3 separate regions of the Homo sapiens genome follow, and regions 1 and 2 are each linked to region 3. The links come from fine-mapping of genetic effects on gene expression. A gene starts in region 3. Each other region holds a variant in brackets. All regions are shown on one strand. Distances are from middle to middle. Region 1 overlaps USP2 (ubiquitin specific peptidase 2). Region 2 overlaps USP2-AS1 (USP2 antisense RNA 1). Region 3 holds the start of THY1 (Thy-1 cell surface antigen).

Evidence for each region. PIP is the estimated chance that this variant, and not a neighbour inherited with it, causes the effect.
Region 1: its variant is the best candidate, but not a certain one, in a credible set for the expression of THY1 in atrial appendage (GTEx, PIP 0.68).
Region 2: its variant is the best candidate, but not a certain one, in a credible set for the expression of THY1 in gastroesophageal junction (GTEx, PIP 0.82).

Annotation. Positions count from the first base shown.
Region 1 is chr11:119,369,474-119,376,353 of GRCh38, reverse strand. It overlaps USP2 (ubiquitin specific peptidase 2), which reads left to right. Exons shown (of 13, transcript NM_004205.5): 2 at 2,833-3,647. The coding sequence starts at 2,874. Among named protein-coding and RNA genes, the nearest start is that of USP2, 8.8 kb to the left of the region's middle. RefSeq lists enhancers at 1-27, 2,894-3,394. The variant C/G (reference allele first, on the strand shown) is at 3,915.
Region 2 is chr11:119,467,033-119,473,912 of GRCh38, reverse strand. USP2-AS1 (USP2 antisense RNA 1) reads right to left here. Exons shown (of 4, transcript NR_034160.1): 3 at 3,938-4,104. Among named protein-coding and RNA genes, the nearest start is that of THY1, 47 kb to the right of the region's middle. RefSeq lists an enhancer at 1-495. The variant G/A (reference allele first, on the strand shown) is at 3,479.
Region 3 is chr11:119,420,027-119,426,906 of GRCh38, reverse strand. THY1 (Thy-1 cell surface antigen) reads left to right here and starts at 3,735. Exons shown (of 4, transcript NM_006288.5): 1 at 3,735-3,794; 2 at 5,978-6,038; 3 at 6,521-6,856. The coding sequence starts at 6,002. The region is part of intron 2 of USP2-AS1 (USP2 antisense RNA 1); the gene reads right to left. RefSeq lists enhancers at 3,857-4,422, 4,423-4,989, 6,689-6,880.

The sequences.
Region 1 (6,880 bases), 51 kb after region 3:
GCAACAGGGAGACTCGCAGCCACGTGAGTGCCCGTCCTGTCCCTGTCTTGCGCAGCGAGACTCCGGCCAGGGCCCCAGCCCGCTCTCCTGCCCATAGTGCATTCTGTGGCCTCCAGGGACAGCTGTGCAGGTAATGCCAAGGGGCACCAACCCAGGCTGTGCTTTCACCTGGAAGGTGCTAGGACCTTTGAGAGTGAAACTGGGGGTTGCGGGAGGGGAGAGACATGTGGAAGGCCCCGGCCCCAGTAGGAACCCTCTCCGCAGGCATGGGAACTGTAGCTAGAAGTCAGAGCCGAGAGGCAGCTTCCATGGAGTATTAGTGATGGCATGACTCCCAGGGCTGCTAGGAGGAGGCGGAGGGGTCTGGCAATCACCTGCCAGATGGGAGGGAGAGTGGGGATTTGGGAGCCCTCCTGGGAATCTGTGGGCCAGAGATGTGGCCCCACCTCCGGCTCCAAAGCCTTTCAGAGCTGTCTGTCCCTGTCCTCTGGACCTCGTTTGGCCCCAGCACTTCTGCGTCATCAGCAGGGTCAAGGGATGTCACGGGCTTGGGGCGCTGCCCGAAGAATACCAATTCCCTGAGAGCCTTACTGTGGGGGAGGGAGAGGGAGAGCTGTGGGGAGGAGCCATGAGCTCATACCCTTGTTGGGGGGATTGTATCTGATTGGCTGCCTGGTGTCCCAGAGCCCAGCTCCTGAGACCTGGAGTCTCTTTGACTTTGCATTATTGATGGAGTTCTCCAAAGCAAAATAGGGCAGGACTGGGCCCCCACCCCGACCCTGTGCCTCTGTCTGTCTCTCCCGCTATGGTTTCCCTCTAACGCTGTGTGACATCATCCCCCAGTTACCTTTTCCTAGAAAGGGGTGAAAGTTGTGCTGGGCACAGTGGGCAAAGGAGTGTACATGAAGGGCCAGGGGCCCCCTGGGCCAGGTGGCAAAAGGCTAGACAGTAAGATGGACCAGGCCTTTCTGATGTCAGCCTGGACTGAAAACTGCTGGAGTTCTCAGGCAGGGTCAAGGAATGCTGTTCCGGGCCTATATGGAAGCCACCTGCTCATCTCTCACCCCTGTACCTACCCCAAAGCCTTGTGTGGACTGGGATTCTAGAGCTTTCTGCCAAGCCCTCGCATTTGGGGTTTGGCACCAGCTCCTCTCTGCCCTAATGGGCTGGGTTGCCAAGCCAGTGTCTGCTGAGTGGCCAGATGTCTGCCCACTGCCTGTTTCTCTCGCTGGGGGCTGCAGGGGGAGGCCTGGCATCCCAAGCTGAGGCCAGAGGCTGGCCAGGCTGGGAGACAGCCAGCCCTGATATTATCACAGACCTTCAGAGGGCGGAGCCATGCTGCCTCGCAGTAGCTGGGGGAGGAGATGGTAGCCACTGTCATTGTGGAGCCCTTCACGTGTTGTTATCTCATTTATTCCTCACAACAGCCCTGTGAGGTAGGAATTATGAGGATGATGGTTTTACTCATTTACAGATGAGGAAGTTGGGGCTCAGAGAGGTTACGTGACTAGTGCAAAATCACCCAGCTAGTCCATCACAGGGCAAGTCCCACAACTCTGAGAGTCCTGGATGGCTCTGCTCCATCCCCCTAGAAAGCCCCCCAAGAGCCCCTGATGCCCTCGGGGAAAGGCGTCTGACCCTACTTGCTCCTCTGCCACTCCAGCTCCATTGGATACAGGCTGCACGTTTACGGTGATGGAAGGCCTCTGGGGGTCCCCAACTGACCCTAAATCTGATGCGGGGGAGGTAACTCCAGGTTAAGTAGAAAGAACACTGGCCAGGATTTTAAAGACCTGGATTCCAGTCCTGGCTCTGCTGGTGTGTGGCCGGGGGCAAATAAGCATCACTTTTCCCATCTGTATAACAGATAGATTAAAATTCATGATCCTCTGGGGCTCTCAAAGCTCCACATTCAGCAGTGTCTGTGTTCCTTCACTAGACCCTCCCCAGCTGCAGGACTGGAGCAGGGAAGGACTGGGAATGCCACCTGCAGTGCAAGATTTGGGACTGTAGGGGGCCCCCTTTGCACAAGCATCGCCAGGACCAATTTGAGATCTGTGTTTGTAGAGGAAGCCTGTGTTGGTAGAGGAACTCTTAGGAGGCCACAGGGCCCTAACTCCACTTAGAACAGAAGCTTAGCTCAGTGAAGTGAGTGTCCCTCACTGTGGGACCATGCAGCAGGTGCTGGTGTCTGGGGAAAGGGTCTGGAGACCACGTTCTGGCCCCTCATTGTTGCATGCTCACTCACGGCCTCCCCTGCCCACCCACACCCCATTACTTCCTCCCCTGAGCCTCCTTGGCCTCACAGGGGATCTGACCAAATGATCTTCAGGTCATTCCAGCACAGACAGTCTAGGATTCCAAAAAGACACCTGCTCATCACATAAGTCAGAAGGGACAGATGTGGTCTTAACTCCTGAAATATCCAGCATTCTCAACCCAGGGGTCAGTGGCATTCCCCCAGCTCAAGAGTTTCTGCAGATGCTGAGGCAATGGGATTTGACCTGGAAGACTGCACGGCTTGGTGGGCTGTGGAGGTCAGATAGCCCCTGCTTGCGTGTTTGAGTCTTTGAATGGCCAGGATGCGCTGACTTCCTGTGTGGCATATAAAAGCCACCTCATCCCTCGCACTCTCACCGAGGTGTGAACACACAGGTGCAAGCAAGCTCCTGTGCACACCTGCGTGCATGTGTGCTTCTCAGCAGCCAGCCTGCCTCTTGTGGAAATGGACTGGGAGCTCTGAGGTTCTGGCCCAGCTGAGGATGGGGAGCAGGTCTGTGGGAGCCCGACACCTGGCAGGGCCCTCTGACAACTACACTCCTTGTCTTTCAGCCCATGAGGCTCCCAGTCCCCACTGAGTGCCACCCTGAAGGATGTCCCAGCTCTCCTCCACCCTGAAGCGCTACACAGAATCGGCCCGCTACACAGATGCCCACTATGCCAAGTCGGGCTATGGTGCCTACACCCCGTCCTCCTATGGGGCCAATCTGGCTGCCTCCTTACTGGAGAAGGAGAAACTTGGTTTCAAGCCGGTCCCCACCAGCAGCTTCCTCACCCGTCCCCGTACCTATGGCCCCTCCTCCCTCCTGGACTATGACCGGGGCCGCCCCCTGCTGAGACCCGACATCACTGGGGGTGGTAAGCGGGCAGAGAGCCAGACCCGGGGTACTGAGCGGCCTTTAGGCAGTGGCCTCAGCGGGGGCAGCGGATTCCCTTATGGAGTGACCAACAACTGCCTCAGCTACCTGCCCATCAATGCCTATGACCAGGGGGTGACCCTAACCCAGAAGCTGGACAGCCAATCAGACCTGGCCCGGGATTTCTCCAGCCTCCGGACCTCAGATAGCTACCGGATAGACCCCAGGAACCTGGGCCGCAGCCCCATGCTGGCCCGGACGCGCAAGGAGCTCTGCACCCTGCAGGGGCTCTACCAGACAGCCAGCTGCCCTGAATACCTGGTCGACTACCTGGAGAACTATGGTCGCAAGGGCAGTGCATCTCAGGTGCCCTCCCAGGCCCCTCCCTCACGAGTCCCTGAAATCATCAGCCCAACCTACCGACCCATTGGCCGCTACACGCTGTGGGAGACGGGAAAGGGTCAGGCCCCTGGGCCCAGCCGCTCCAGCTCCCCGGGAAGAGACGGCATGGTGAGTTTACCCTTGGGGACCGGGGATAGGCTGGGGAGGCAGCCACTGATGGAGAACAGCCAGGCTGAGGGCTCGACTCCCAACCTGACTGATGACTGACAGGCTGCTCCTGGTGGAGACAAACAAGAGAAGTCATCCTGGCACATCTGGTGCCCCTGGGGCTCCGTGCCGAGGGGAGGGGCCTTCCCACTCTGCCTAGAAAGCCCACTCAGGGCCCGCGCACTCGAGGATAGTCCAGTAGTGTTCTCAGGAATGCTCTGCTGCGCC[C/G]AATGAACCACTCTTCTCACCTTCTCCTTTTCTATGTGACATGCCAGTGTCTCCTGCAGGCCTTGCCCCAACCTGGGCTGGATGCGGGGGGGCCCAGACCACCAGTGCACCCTGTGGCAGGAGGGCCTCCTTGCTGTGGTTGCATCTCCCCTCTTGTGCAGGCTTTATTCCCTAGCCCCAAGGCCTGGCTTTACATTTGGACATAAGACATCAGGGGAAGAGGGACTCTCCTCTGAGTGACACTGGCATACTCAGGACCAGGGTATCAGACAGCAATGCTTATCATCTGGCTTTGGAGAAAGTAGGGGAGAAATTTTTATCTAGGGCTTGAGACAATCCAATACCTCTATTCCAGCCCTGCCTCAGCTGGAATGAGGGAAGAGGCTCTGCTGGAGACTGACCAAGGGCTGGCATGGGCTCGCTCGCCAACTAATGCCCGCACACGCCTCTCTTGGGGCACTGACGACATCTGCCTTTTCTGTAGTTATTAGTGTGCCCATTAGGTGGCAAGCTCTCAGAGGAGGAAAAAGAAATCCTATCTCTAGATCCCCTGCCACGTGCCTCCCACAATGGGGGCTGACCTGCTGATTGCAGGGATGAATGGATGGATGGATGTGTGGGTGGTGGGTGGGTGGATACACGGGTAGATGGCGGGTGGACAGATGGACAGGCAAGCATATGGGCAGAAGGGCTGGATGCTGTGTCTCCTCCATTACCTTATGTACCCCTCCCTACTCCTAGGACAAATACATTTTGAAAACAACAGCATGCCACAGCAAGAAATACTGCTTGGAGGGCTGATCCAGACAAATGCAGCAGGGGTTCAGGAATAGGGGCAGGACCTTGAAGCTTGCATAACTAAAGGTCTTGAGAGAGCAACTTTGATAATATGACTTAGGGAGTCTTGGCTTTGTTGTGCCATCTGTGAAGTGGCACAGGAGATAGAAACGCTGGTGCCTCCCAGAACATTCAGAACTTGACAAGGCAGGGCTGGATCCACTGTAGAAAGGAGTGGAGAAGAGAGATGTGTCACAACAGAGCTGGCATGGTGGGGAAGTATCAGCTCTCAGGGTGCTGCGTGCTGGGCTTGGAGTGGAGCAGGACTCACTTGGACTCGGCTGGTGCTGTTCAACCCCAGGGCAATTAGAATATGGCTCTCCTCGGAGGGGCTCGGGTCCTAGAAGCCTCTGCGGGGCTCCCTCCCCTTGCTCAGAAGAGAAGGGTTGTTTCATGGTCAGCAGTGCTCCTTAAAGTGGGGTCTGCAGACTGCCTGTGTCAGAGTCACTGCAGGGCTTAACGATTCATCCAAACCCACTGAAGCAAACTCTCTCGGGATGGGGCCTGGGAAGCTGCTCTTTCCACAAGCTCTTTGGGTGATCTCTAGGCATGCTGAGATGGAAAACCTCAGCGCAGACTAAACTACAGACCCACCCTCAGCCCCAATCATGACAGCAGTATTCCCCTTTACTGGGGATCAGATTCCACTGGGAATCTGCCTCCTCCCCACACAGGCATGGCCCAACCCTCCTGGGAGTCTGCCGCCCTCCAACTCTCCAGAAGGGACAACCCTGGCTCCTCCCCCCGGCTCCAGGGCCAAGGTGAAGGGAATTTTGAGAGAGGACCTCAAAGAAGTGGCAGATTGCCCTGGGACAAACTCAGCCACCCTCATCCAGAAGCAACTCATAAGGCACTTTAGCCGGGAATGCCCTGCAGTTGAGCTAGTGTTTCATTCTGAGCTCATGCCCCAGAAGATACTGCCAACCAGCAGAGGCCTCTCCAGGGTCAATAGTACAAGACCTTTATTTAACCTCACCCTGATCTCTCCACCCCTTATCGTCATTTCCTGGAGCAGAGTGCGTCTTGCTGAGGTGAGAACAACCCTGCTCGTGCGGCCTGGACCACTTCTTTCTAAAACTGGGTCCAGTTTCTTTCTAGATCTCCATCTGGGGATCTTGCCTTCTGAGGCACTCATTTGTGGTGCTCAGCTTACTAGCAGCGTGACCTCAGATAGGTCCCTTAGCTTCTGAACTTGTGTCCTCCTCTGTAAGATGAGTGATCATAGTTCCCACTTCACAGATTACTTGAGGAATGAAAAGATAATGTATGTGAAAGTGCCTGGCATGTTGCTTAGTAAATGTTAGTCCTCGTTGTTGTACCCTTCTGGTGCTTTGGCAGGCAAGAGATGTGTGCGAGCAACAGTCCCTGCCTTCAGTGCCTTCACAATTCACTTAGGGAAATAAGTTTGTTTTGTTTTGTTTTTTTGGAGATGGAGTCTCGCTCTGTCTCACTCAGGTTGGAGTGCAGTGGTGCGATCTCGGCTCACTACAACCTCCACCTCCCAGGTTCAAGTGATTCTCCTGTGTCAGCCTCCCAAGTAGCTAGGACTACAGGCGTGTACCACCACACCAGGCTAATTTTGTATTTTTAGTAGAGACGGGGTTTCACCATGTTGGCCAGGCTGGTCTTGAACTGACCTCAGGTGATCCACCCGCCTCGGCCTCCCAAAGCGCTGAGATTACAGGTGTGAGCCACCACGCCTGGCCAAGAAGAAGTTCTTAAATAGGTACAATGGGAGGCAGCCCTGGGTGTTCTTGAGTGTCACAGGTGGACGGAAAGGGAGAGGTCATCTGAGGCTGGGACGGGCTGCTCGTGACCAGTGGAAGGAACAGTTGGCCTCTCTAACCTTGGACACCTATCAGCTGGGCTGTATTTCCTAGACTATAAAAGGGAACAATCACGCCCGCCCTGCCCACCTCTCAAGCATGCCATGAGGCTCAAAGCAAATAATGAAGGTGGAGGAATGTGAAATCAATAAAATGCTGCAGAAGAGGTCATTTAAACTTAAGGGGGGAAAAGAGATCATAGAAAGGGGGCGTTTGGCAGCTGACTAGAGTAGGAAGCCCCCTCCCCACCAACCCCGTGGGAGAAACAGAGGTAAAAAAAAGTACATCCTGTGTCCCAGGGGA
Region 2 (6,880 bases), 47 kb before region 3:
TAGTTATACCCACTTTACAGATGAGAAAACTCAGAGAGGCTCCTTCTCTAAAGGCTATCCTATAAATGTAGGTGTTTCTAGGGGTTCCATTTCAGGCCTCTTCTCTTTTTCCTCTGCATGTATTCCCTTAGCCACATCTGCTCCTATAACCTAGCCTTAATTCTCAAATTAAGTCCTTGCCCAGATCTTTCTTCTGGGTTCCAGACTAGTCCATCCACCTGCTGTCAGTGGCCCTCACCAGCCTCCACTGCACCCAATTCAATCAGCCTCCCCCTCCTGCTCACTCTGCCCTCACCCTGGATCTCGGATCCTAGCACCACTCAGCGCCATCTCACCTCCCTGAGCCATGCTGCCATCACCCTTCGCCTCCATGTGAAGTGTGGCTCAGGGAGATGAGATGAGGCTGAGAGTGGTGCTGCTCTGTTTTTACTGGTGCCCTCCACACTGCAGCCAGAGTAGTCTTTTTTTTGGCAGGGGTGGGGGGTCGGGTCTTGCCCAGGCTGGAGTGCAGGCTGAAGTACAGGCTCGTCACCCAGGCTGGAATGCAGTGGCGCCATCTCGGCTCACTGCAACCTCCTTCCACTTCCAAAGTTCAAGCAATCCTCCCACCTCAGCCTTCCGGGTAGTTGAGACCACAGGCGTGTGCCACAACACTTGGCTAATTTTTAATTTTTTTGTAGAGGCAGGGTCTCATTATATTGCTCAGTCTGGTCTTGAACTCCTGGGCTCAAGCAATCCTCCCACCTCGGCCTCCCAAAGTGCTGGGATTACAGACACGAGCCACCGGAGGCAACTTGGTCAAACCTCCAGAGGCCACTTTCCACCCCCGCCAACCACATCTTCCTGGAGGCAGAGACAACGCTTGTTCCCTGCCTTCCCTCCCGACACCACCAGCACGCACTTGTGCACGCGCACACGCACACACGCACACGTGGGCAGCTCGAACTGCGCTCCCTCAGATTCCTCCTCCCCTGAGCACACTGTACCTGCCCTGCCCCAGGACAGGGTGCCCCCTCCTCCCACCTGCACCCCACCTGTCTCTCCCCCAGCTTCTCTTGTTCCAGCACCTCAGTCCTGGCATCTGCCAGGCTAAGAAGCCATCCTTGGCCTGGGAGCGCTGTCTTTGACTCGTTTTGTGGCCCTGCACTCCTGCTCTTGGCCTCATCTGCCCATCAGTAAACAGAAGTGGATGGATCATGAGATGACCTCCAAGGTTTCTTCCAGCTCACAGCACCACTGACTGGGAGGCCTCAGCAAAAATGTCCTCACAGTTCTGGAGGCTGGAAGTTAAGTCTGACATCAAGGCATCCTCGCGACTGGTTTCTTCTGAGGCCTCTCTCCTTGCCTTGCAGAAGCGCCTTCCCCTGCGCCTTCACCCAGACTTTCCTCTGTGCAAATCTATGCCCTCGTTTCCTCTTCTCATAAGAACACTGGTCATATTGGATTAAGGCCCACCCATATGACCTCATGGTAACCTAATTACCTCGGTAAAGGCCCTGTCTGCAAATACAGGCGATTATGAAACAACATGTGTTTGAACTTTGTGAGTCCACTTACATGCGGATTTTCTTCTGCCTCTGAGACAGCAAGACCCACCCCCACCACCCCCTCCACAGCCTACTCAGCATGAAGACAGGGAGGATGGAGACCTTGATGAGGATCTACTTCCACTTAATGACTAATACATAGATTTTCTCTTCCTTTTGTTTCTTTTAATAACATTTTCTTTAGCTTACTTTGTTGTAGGAATACAGTACATAATACATATACCATACATAATATGTGTTCAACTGTTTGTCATTGGTAAGGCTTCCAGGCGACAGTAGGCTATTTGTAGTTAAGTTTGGGGGGAGTCAAAAGTCATATGTGAGTCTTGGCTACGAGGGGGTCGGTGCCCTTGACCCCTTGTTGTTCAAGGGTTAACTGTACAATCATATTCTGATGTCCTGGCTAGGGGTTGGGACTTCAATATGTGAATTTTGTGAGGACCCAATTCAGCCCAAGGCACTGGAGGGACAAAGTCCACACTAGAGCACCCTAAGTACTACTGAGTATTTCTAAAGTACCGCCGGGTATGGCTGGGTGCCCTGAGTCCTGCCGGGTACACCCGGGCACCTGAGACCTGCCGGGTACAGCCAAGAAACCTGAGACCAGCTTGGTACAGCCGAGAACCTTGAGACCTGCTTGGTACAGCCGAGAACCCCGAGACCTGCTGGGTACAGCCGAGAACCCTGAGACCTGCTGGGTACAGCCGAGAACCCTGAGACCTGCTGGGTGTGCTGGGCACCCTGAGTCCTGCTGAATACAACTGAGTACCCTGAGTCCTGCTGGGTATGGCTGAGTACTGCTCACTTTCAGAGTCTCTTCCTCCCCCGGCCCCCTGCTGCCTCTGATCTTTTTTCAGAGTGCCACTGTCCCTCTCACCTCCCTTAGTCCCTGGGAAATGGAAGACAGCCTGGGAGTGAGGGAGGAAAGGGGACATGGGAGCACAGCGGACGGGGAGGGAAGTGCAGGGAGAACAGCTAGACTTGTTGCTGGGGAGGACACTGTCTTGGGGCCATCTAGGGCTAGGGGTTCACCGGGCAGGAGCAAGGCAGAGGGGTAAGGGAGTCCAGGGTTCTAGCAAGAGATGGTGGAAATGTCATGATCAGTGCAGACTAGAAAGCAAAGGTGGGAGATGGAGTGAAAGCAGAGGCATTCGTGACATTAGAAGCCAGCAAGCTGGGTGGGACAACAGGGATTACAGAGAAGGGGAGAGCGGGGCTGGCTCACTAGAAGCCAGCAAGCTGGGTGGGACCACAGGGATCACAGAGAAGGGAAGAGCGAGGCTGGCTGAGCCTCTGCAGGGAAACGGGTGTTCCAGCATCTGGAGCCTCTGAACCTTCCCAGGCCTCTCAGAGGAGGAAGAGCCAGGGAGGGACAGGGAGAGCTATTGGGGGGGCCATCACAGCAGCCCCTCAGGTTTGGGGTCTAGGAGTCTGAGTTACCAAGTGGGGCTGGTCTGACTGTCTGCTGGGAACAGGCTGTCCCCGGCCCAGCTGTGGGCACAGGAGAGAGGCAGAGCCTGGTCAGGAGATCTCCCAGGGGAGGCTGGGACACCTGACGCTGCAGGCATCAGAGAGTCTGGAGGGAGAGGGGCCAGGCGGGGTGGGAGCCGGGGTCTCTGAGCTCTACAAATGGGCCGCCTCGCAGGCAGGCCAGCGGAGAGGACCCCAGAACACTCCATATCTAATTGGGTGGGTGCAGTATATGGATTTTCTGTAAGAAGTGCTCTCTGAAGCATTTCAAAGGCATGTGTGGCCTCAGAAAGCTTATGAGTCAGTGGCCAACTGACATTTGGTACACTGCATTTAAATGCAGGCAAAAGGCAGCCGTCTTAAGGCTTGCGGGAAGGGCGTGGGCCAGCTTTCCTGGAACATCTGCCAAGGCACAAAGGAAGATGCTGCCAGGAAGGAGTGCAGTGATGTTTCCCAGGCCA[G/A]CCCTGCCTCCTGGGCCCTGAGCACCTCCCCTTAGAGCTTCCATCAGTCTGGAAATACCTGTGAGCCCTACTGTGTGTTGACACCAGGCTGGGTGCTGGGGCTACCCGGGAAGAGCAGCCTTGCCCAGGAGATGCTCGTGGTCCTGGCTTCCTCATCTGGCACCCATCAGGCTAGACACAGATGGGGCTCCAGGCCTTTGCACATGCTGTTCCCATAGCCAGCATCCAGTCCTGGTCTAGATGACGCAAAGCCCTAGCTCATGTCTTCGGAGAGGAGATGCGGTGTCCAGAAACTGGTGGCCTCAGGACCATTTGAGATGTTCTCAATTCAGTGTAAGGACTATGATGCACAGTGTCGTTTGTACTGTCTTTACTTTTTGTGACAGAGAAATAATTCATTTTTATGAAGCTCACAGAAACACAATCTCTCATTTTATAATTGAATTATGTGGAACTCACTTTGCACAAGATGACAGGGCTGAATCTTCTTGTGTTTTTCTGTGCGCTTGGATCTCTCTGCCTCTCCCGTGTGTTGTGAGTTCCATGGGGAAGGAGTCCAGTCTGGGCTGTGCAGGGCTGCATCCCCACGAACCTGCACAGTGCTTCCCACCAGGTGGGAACTTGGCCTGAGAAAATAAATAAGACCCTCAAAAATCCAAGGACCAAGCCATGAATCTCCAAGCCTAACCAGGTGGACATATCTCCTCCTCAGCTCAAGGGGAGACCCAGGGGCCAGAAAACAGCCACTGTGATCATGGCCTTCTGAGAAGCCCAAAGGGACAGACTACGCCCTTGCTCTAAAACATGCATCTCTCCAGTCCTCCCTCAGCCCTGAGGGAACTGGCTTCACTCCTCAGCAGAGGAGGCTTTGCTCTCCACATGCCCAGGAGGGCCGGGGTGGGCTCAGCTTCTGAGGGCACAACCTCCTTACCATGATTTATGGAAAGAGCAACTCCCGGAAGGAAGCCTTAACCAAGGACCTGCCAGGAAACTTTTTAAAATATGTCATTGAAAGGCACAATGGACCCAGGCACAGTGGCTTACACCTATAATCCCAACACTTTGGGAGGCCAAGGTGGGAGGATCACTTGAGCCCAGAAGTATGAGACCAGCCTGGGCAACATGGCAAGACCTCATCTCCACACACACACACACACAAAAACTTAGTCAGGCATGGTGGCACACACCTGTGATCCCAGCTGCTTGGTGGGCTGAGATGGGAGGATCACTTGAGCCCAGGAGGTGGAGGCTGCAGTGAGCTGTGATCACACCACTACACTCCTGTCTGGGTGACAGAGTAAGACCACATCTCAGAAAAAAAGAAAAAGACAAGAAAAGACAATGAGGGGAGGCAGAGCAAGATGGCTGAATAGAAGCCTCCAGCGTTCGTCCCCCTGCAGGAACACCAAATTAAACAACTGTCCACACAGAAAAGCACCTTAATAAGAACAAAAATCCTAAGAACCTGGTACCAGCTAGGCCCAAGTAGGGTACAGCATCAAATGGGCTCCTGGGTCCCCAGTTCTAGACTGTGGCTCCTTGATGGCATTTCTGGACCTGCTCTGGGCCAGAGGGAAGCCTGCTGCCTGGAAGGGAGGGACTAGGAACAGGCAGCATTCACCACAAGCTGAATGAAGAAGCCTGGGCCTCGACTGAACATAGCCAGGCACTATTTACCACAGGCCTGGGGTGGCAGTGGTTACGGGGAGAGACCCCTGTACTTGAGGAAAGGGGAGGGAAGAGTGGGAAGGATTCTCTGTCTTGTGGCTTGGGTGCCAGCTCAGCCACAGTTGAATAGAGCATCAGGTAGATTCCTAAGGTTCCTGACTCCAGCCCTGGCTCCTGGATGGCATCTCTGGACCCCCCTGGGGCCAGGAGGACTCACTGCCCTGAAGGAAAGGACATAAGCCTGGCTCAATATGCCACCTGCTAACTGTAGGGATTCTTGGGCCTTCAGTGAACATAGGTGGTAGCCAGGCAGTGGTCAATGCATGCCTTGGGTGAGACTCAGTTGCTGTCCAGGCTTTGGGTCTGACCCAGTGCAGTCCCAGTGGTGGTGGCTAAAGGGGTACTTGTGTCACCCCTCTCTCAGCTCCAGGGAGCTCAGCACAGAGATAGAGACTCTGTTTGTTTGGGGGAAAGTAAGGGAAGAGAACAAGAGTCTCTGCCTGGTAATCCAGGGAATTCTTCTGGATCTTACCCAAGATCACTAAGGCAGTACTTCTACTAGTGCAAGAGCTACAGCATTATTGGGCTTGGGGTGCCCTTTAAAGCAGATATGGCAGCAGTGACCAAAGACTTAGATCACAACATACAATCCCTCTGAATATTTGGAAAGCCTGTCCAAGAAGGATGGGTACAAACAAGTACAGACTGTGAAGACTACAATAAATACCTAACTCTTTAATGCCCAGACACTGACAAACATCCACGAGCATCAACACCATCCAGGAAAACATGACCTCACCAAATGAACTAAGTAAGACACCAGGAACCAATCCTGGAGAAATAGAGATATGTGACCTTTCAGACAAAGAATTCAAAATTGCTGTTTCAAGGAAGCTCAATGAAATCCAAGATAACACAGAGAAGGAATTCAGAATACTATCAGATAAATTTAACAAAGAGGTTGAAATAACTTAAAAGAATCAAGAAGAAATTCTGGAGCTGAACAATGCAATTGACATATTGAAGAATGCATCAGAGTCTCTCAACAGCAGAACTGATCAAGTAGAAGAAAGAATTAGTGAGCTTCAAGACAGTCTATTTGAAAACACACATTGGAAACAAAAGAAAAAAGAATAAAAAAGAATGAAGCAAACACAAAAGATATAGAAAATAGCCTCAAAAAGACAAATCTAAGAGTTATTGGCCTCAAAGAAGAAGTAGAGAGAAAGACTGGGGTAGAAAATTTATTCAAAAGGATAATAACAGAGAACTTTCCAAACCTATAGAAAAATATCAATATTCAAGTACAAGAAGGTTATAGAACACTAAGCAGATTTAATTCAAATAAGACTACCTCAAGGTATTTAATAATCAAATTCCCAAAGGTCAAGAATAAAGAAAGAATCCTAAAGCAGCAAGAAAAAAGAAATAAATAACATACAATTGAGCTCCACATCTGGCAGAAGATTTCTCAGTGGAAACCTTACAGGCCAGGGGAGAGTGTCATGACATATTTAAAGTGCTGAAAGAAAAAACTGTTACCCTAGAATAGTATATCTGGTGAAAATATCCTTCAAACATGAAGGAGAAATAAAGACTTTCCCAGACAAAAAAAAGCTGAGGGATTTCATCAAGAGCGGACCTGTCCTACAAGAAACACTGAAGGTAGTTCTTCAACATGAAAAAAGAGAATGTTAATTAACAATAAATCATCCGAAGGAAAAAAACTGGTAA
Region 3 (6,880 bases):
CTTGCTCAGGAAGTTGACCTCGACTAGAGGTTAGGAGAGGTAGCGGAGTGTAGAGCAGCAGTTCCAAGATATTTTAATTTCATAGACTTAGTCACATTTCCAAAGAAGTGTGAGGGTTAACAGGAAGTTACCAATTTTCTTTTTTTTATATATAAAGTAGGACATTAAAAACCACACATACACACATATCAATACCACCATCTCTTCAGAAAAATGGAAAGGTATAACCTTAGAATGAAAGTATAGGAAAGGCAGGTGTATAGTCTCAATTAGTCAAAGATTAGAGCTCAGTATTATGGCTGCCTTGATATCAGGGAGACCTCAAATGGCCTAATTACAAGATCCCCTCCCTACTTTGCTGATGAGGTCCCCCAGCCAAACCACCCTCCTTATTGTGGGGGCCAGGCACAATTTCTGCTTAACCCTGAGTACTGGGCTTCAGCACCCTGCCAGCCCACAGAATTATGCAAACAGCCAATCACATTCTCTTACAGGAAACGGGGGCATTCCACCGTTTTGACATTACAAAGCCTGCCTCCCACAGCTCCTGGTAATACCTGTTTCTGAGTGCAACTCCCATGAAGCAGTTCATGGCGTGCAGTGTTATCCTCCCAGGTATGAGCATATGTGACTAATAAACTGCTATTGCTCTCATTCGTCCAGTGTTGAGGTCATGTGATCCCCCTAACTTTAGGGGATGGGAATCTCTCCCTCATCAACAGGGTGAAGAACATAAAATCAAAACAAGGTGATAACCTGACAGCTATGTTCAGAGTACCCCGGACTGTCCTCGTTTTACTTATTTCACCGTGAACCAGGGAAATGAGTCTAGCAGAGATCTGAGGGTCCGCCCTGGGAGCACTGGAGAGCACAGTGGGAACATGGAGTCAGGAGACTTAAGATCTAATAGTCCAGACCATGCTTCAAAATATTTGTCTGACCTTGACAAATCATTACCTTTCTCGGGCCTCAAGTCCCAGCTATAAAATAGTGGGGCAAGCCAGGTGCAGTGGCTCCCACCTGTAATCCCAGCATTTTGAGAGGCCAGGCGGGAGGATTACTTGAGCCCAGGAGTTCAAGATCAGCCTGGGCAACATGGTGAGATCCCATCTCTACAAAAAAAAAAAAAAAAAATTAATTAGCTGGGCATAGTGTCAAGTGCCTATTGTCCCAGCTACTCAGGAGGCTGAGGTAGGAGGATCACTTGAGCCCAGGAGGTCAAAGCTTCAGTGAGTGGTGATTGCACCACTGCACTCTAGCCTAGGCAACAGAGTGAGACCCTGGCTCAAAAATAAAATAAAATAAAATTTAAAAGATGGGACCACTGTAGTCACCTCTGTGATTCTAGAAAGACAATCTGATGAAATGAGGGAATGGCTGGCAGTCCCTAGGTCATGCTAAAGGACTGTGTGTTTTTAGAAGAGTTTTTATCCCCATATGTTTCTGGGTGGGAAAACAGGAGATGGTGGGAAAAGAGAGATCTAAGAGACCAACAGGGCAGCCGCAGTCTTCTGGCAGGAAGTCTTGCCTTAGCTGGATTCCTCTAAAGCCTTGCTGGTTTCAGCACTCCGATCCTATCCACAGTAAATGGAGTTTTAAAATCTCCTCCCTCCACCACCTTGTGCTCTATCCCCTGACCTCAGATGTCTAATCAGAGCCATTAATTCCATCCAATCAGAGATCTTGCTTGGCAGACACAGAATTGCCACACCTTCTACAGTCTATACTCCCCTCCCCTGCCTAAAAGCAAGGTGCTTGGGGACCCAGAAATTAGGCCAGGTCCTCATAACCTTATCAAAATAGCACTGCTAGGCCTTCCACCCAGCAACACTCAGAGACAGGGCCAAAGAGTGGGAAACGGAGCATCCAGGGCCTCAGCCAGCAGAGCCCAGATGCCTTCTGCAGTTAAGATCCCTGGACTCAGAATCAGAAAGCTGTTAAGCAGGAAGGAGTGCGCTGCCATGAAGAGGCAGACAGAAGCCAGAGCCAGTGTGTCTGGAATGCATCAGGTAGATGAATGGGAAGATGGCTGGGATGGAGTTGGAGGGAGGAGGGAAGTCAGCAGCCAGGGGCCAGGACATTCATGGCCTTAAAAAGTATCCTACAAACAAGAAGCCAGGTTAGCTCACCTATGAAGAGGGACAGTCTTACCAGATCATGTGTTAGAGTCCCCAGATCCTGGGGAGCGTGAGAAAAGTGCAGACTCAGCTGGCTCTAGTACTAGATTAAGGAGGTCCTAGGTGGGCAAGGCCAGCTGCATTTTTCATAAAATGCCCTAGAAACCTCTGCAGTTTACCAAAGTGAATAGCTCCTTTGGACTTAACCATCTGCAAGGCTCATTCCAGTTAGAGTGTTCCATCACCCTAAATGCTGGGAAACCAAGCGAATCTCCTCCCACTTGCAAGCTTCCAACAGTGGCTTCCAACAGTGCCACTGCAGTATCAGAAACTGCAGGGAAGGTGCCAGGGCTGACTTCCATGAAGAAATAGGAGAACAGGCAGGCAGACATTGGGGAGGCCCACAGAATGTCGTGATCAGAATTCATAAAGAGGCTGGCAGGATACAAATCAATCAAATAAACGTTAGTTCAAAAAAATTCACTACACCTGTGAGTGAGAGAAAGTCATCAGCACTGTCTCTAAAAATGAGCCTAGGGCTTCTGGTGACATCCAATCGGTGGGTTATCAGGAGTGCCCCAGGTGATCAGGAGTTGGCCTCGACTCAGTCCTTTTTGTGCTGTCTCCTCCTCTTTCCCAGAGTTCCTCTCTCTCTTCTCCCACTAGGCAGGGATGAGCAAGAGGAATGGCTCACCCTTGAGAGCTGGGGTCCATAGCCCAGGTCAGTTCTCCAGCTCTCCCACTTACCAGCCAAGACAGGAGGTGAGGATTGAGATGGGATGAACCCAGCAGGCGGCCATGGGTTAAAGGTCGCCATGAATGTAATGTGCCCAGCACAGTGCCTGCTAAAAGGCAACACTCCCTTCCTGGTCTGAAGACCAAACAAGCAGACTGTACTCAGGAAAGCCAGAAGAACCTTCCAGCTGTCTGGACCAGAAGGTGCCAGCCCAGGGGCTGAAGAAGACGTAATGCCCAGAGCAAAAAGCGCCTGCAGCCCCCTGAAGGGCTGGGTGCTCTGGAATAGATGAGGGGGCGAAATGGGGCTGGGGACCAGGGACGGACAGGGTGGGTCCAGCACCTGCCTCGCTTCCGAAGGGCTGCTCCAACACTGAAAAACACCCAACCAGCTTCCTTTCAGAAAGACTGGAATATTCCAAAACTTCTCACTGGAGGCTCCGGAGGAGGTGGGCTCCAGCTGAAAAGGAAATGTGGAGGCGTGGGCGCTCCCGGCCTGCATCCTGCACCTCTTACACTTTGGTTTTCCCACAGACTCCTGAAGAATAGGTCAGAAGAAAGGGTTAAAGCCTTAAAAGGGGAACAACCATTGCGGGGCTCAGGGAGGAGGATAATGTTCTTTGGGCTGCCGCACCCTGATCCCCGGGGTCCCGAACCCTCCCGTCCCTGGCCAGGCCTGCCAGCCACAGGGTGAGGGCCCCCTTCCGCCGCAACCTGCCACTCTCACACCAATGCGGGACCGCCTTCTCTTCCTTCCCCACCCCCCACCCCACCCTGCCGTCCTTTCTCCCCCAATCTCCGCCTCTGATTGGCTGAGCCCCCGGCTCCCCGCTCCCCCTCTCCTCCATCCCCGGTGAAAACTGCGGGCTCCGAGCTGGGTGCAGCAACCGGAGGCGGCGGCGCGTCTGGAGGAGGCTGCAGCAGCGGAAGACCCCAGTCCAGGTGGGAACTGGAGCCGGTGGGACCTGGGGCTCGGGGACCGCCGTCAGGCGCCCATGCAAGACTTCCCAACACTAGGCTTCGGGCCACGGTCCGAGGGCGCCCAGGGAAGAAGGGCGCAGAGCTTAGGGAGGGGCCTGCTTTCCAGGCAGGGGCGGGAGGGGGATGCTTCTGCAGGGCAGGGGCCGCGTGGCACCCTGATGTCTTTCGGGGAAGGCGCTCCCGGGCTTTCGCCCGCTGGGGGACTGGTGTCTGGGGCTGGGGCGCTGGAGAACAGGGAGGAAGGGCACCAAGGACAGCCTGTGGGTCTACATTCCACCCAGACGTCCCCAAACCCAGCTCGCAGAGGCGGGGAGGAGGACGGATGAAACTGCGGGGAGAGGATGGAGGATGGCGAGCTAGAGGGAATCTGCCGGGTGACCTCGCGGCGGGCTGGGTGCGGGGCACCGGAGGAGAAGGAAGCCGCAGTGCCGCAGGCGGGGACTGGGTGGAAGGCGGGCGGACGGGGGAGGGGAGAGCTGGAAAAGGATGAGAGAGGGGGAAGGGGGACTCATTTGGGAAAGGAGAGGATTGGAATACGGAAATGGATTAAGGATGAGGCCCGCCGGGGGCTTGAGAGGGAGGAAGAGCAGACCTTCTCTGGGTCTGGAGCCGCCTGAGGACACAGACCAGAGGAAATGAATACAGACTGCACCTCCCCAGCCGCTCTCCACCCCTCCCCTGGCTCTTCTACCCTCTCCAGCCCCAGACCCATTTCTTCCCTTTCTTGCTCTGGCCATTGCTCCCCCTTCCCCTCCTAGATCCCAAGCCCGCACAACATCTCAAACAAGAGTCCTCGATTCAAAAGCCAGATGCCGACCCCCCTTCCTCCTGGATCTGGCTCAGGGCAGCAGCTCCACCCCGGGACAGAGAGAGCATTGATTGTAGCTGCAGCCGCCGCGGGATCCTAGCCTCACCCGTCAAGGGGCTGAGCGCCAGGGACCCTGAACTCGTCTAGTGGTGCGCCCTGCGCACCCGGGCGCACTCAACCGAGGCAATGCCCTGCGCGCTCTCGCGGGTGCACGCCCCTTCTGTGGCCTCTCCTGGGCGAGCACTGCTCTGCAGATAGGCTAGACTACCGGCTCCGCGTCGCCTCGCCAAGGGTTGGTTCAGCCAAGGCTGCAAAAAACAAAAAAAGACCAGGCAGACAGCCTATCCAGGGTGGCTATTGAAACTGGGCTGGAAAACTGCAGTCCCAGGAACTCCAGAGAGCTGGACATTGGGAAGCATCCTTGGCTCACATACAATCGGAGATCACTATGTCTTTCTCTCCTCCAGGAACACGATTAGCTTGTGTCCTATCCAGATAGGAATAGATGCTCCCTATCTGGGAGCATCCTTAGCTATGGTGAATGGTATCTAGCCATCCACTGGGGATGGCGAGTGACTTAGGGATTTGTGTCTCACGTATATGAAGCAGTCATCGCCAGATGTTGGTTGTTTTTCTTAACCCCCATCATAACCCGGTGGGTATGTAAGATTCAGAGAGATTCATTCATTCATTCACAATAAATATCTTTGGAGTGTATGCTATATGCCAGTAATCTGCAAACGGAAACGGTTTTGAGCATTGGGGATTTTCTTCTGAACAGGAAATGGGAAGTCCCTAAATGGGGAGTCTTTGTTTAACAGATACAGAGTTTTACTTTGAAAGACAAAAAGAGTTCCGGAGATGGGCTGCATAGCAACGTGAATGTATCCAGCACTGCTGAATATACTGAATTTAAGTACTGAATTTAAATGGTTAAAATAGTAATTATTATGCTTTTTGTATTTTACCACGATTAAATTTTTTTTTTAAATACGAAGCCTCAGCCCTCATAGGTCTTATATTACCATACACTATGTTAATGTAAGAAGAGGAGAAAGAGTGGTAAAGTTACTTAAAGTCACCCAGCTAGTAAGTGCTCCATGGCCAAGCGCAGAAACACACCGTGACTGGGCTTGTTCTCCCTCCTTCCTTGCTTTCCCTGAGCAGGAAAGAGCCAGTGGCAGTATCATGTTCAGTGAGATGCAGGGACGAGAGGGGGAATGGAGAGAGGGACTTAGATGACTGCCATAGCCACTATGCCATGTTCCCAGGGACCCCCAGCCCTGGTGGTAAGTGTGGCACAGCTTGGCTGATTCCCATCCTGTTCCCACCCCAGATCCAGGACTGAGATCCCAGAACCATGAACCTGGCCATCAGCATCGCTCTCCTGCTAACAGGTACCCGGCATGGGGCAGGACTGGGGCTCCAGGCGCCCTGGCTTCCTTCCCTCCAGAGAAGCAGCTTCTCCCTCACAGTCTCAGAAAAGCGCAGGTGACAAAGAGAGGGCTCTTTTTCATCCTGAAGTCAGCCAATCCACCGCGCTGATATTCTGACGGCCTGAGGTGGTTTTTGAAAACACAGTTTGCTGAGCCCTCCTTCACACTATTGAACTAGAATCCCCAACTGAGAACCCGGAACCAGCATCAACTCCCTAAGATCTCCTGTCCTTGAAACACATTGATAGGATCCAAGGCTCAAGCAGAGTGGGGAGGGAGGCTGGGGTCTGCAAAGGAGAAGTGGGATCCCTGGGGTGGGGAAAGGCACTCAGAGAGCAGACCCCGGTCCCCTCCCTAGCCAGGCCCATCTCTCCACTTCAGGTGGGTGGGAGGCCCCTGTGCCGCAGGCCCCTCCAGTTTGAAGGAGGCACTGCTGGTGCCAGTCTTGCAGGTCTCCCGAGGGCAGAAGGTGACCAGCCTAACGGCCTGCCTAGTGGACCAGAGCCTTCGTCTGGACTGCCGCCATGAGAATACCAGCAGTTCACCCATCCAGTACGAGTTCAGCCTGACCCGTGAGACAAAGAAGCACGTGCTCTTTGGCACTGTGGGGGTGCCTGAGCACACATACCGCTCCCGAACCAACTTCACCAGCAAATACAACATGAAGGTCCTCTACTTATCCGCCTTCACTAGCAAGGACGAGGGCACCTACACGTGTGCACTCCACCACTCTGGCCATTCCCCACCCATCTCCTCCCAGAACGTCACAGTGCTCAGAGGTGAGACAAGCCCCTAACAAGGTC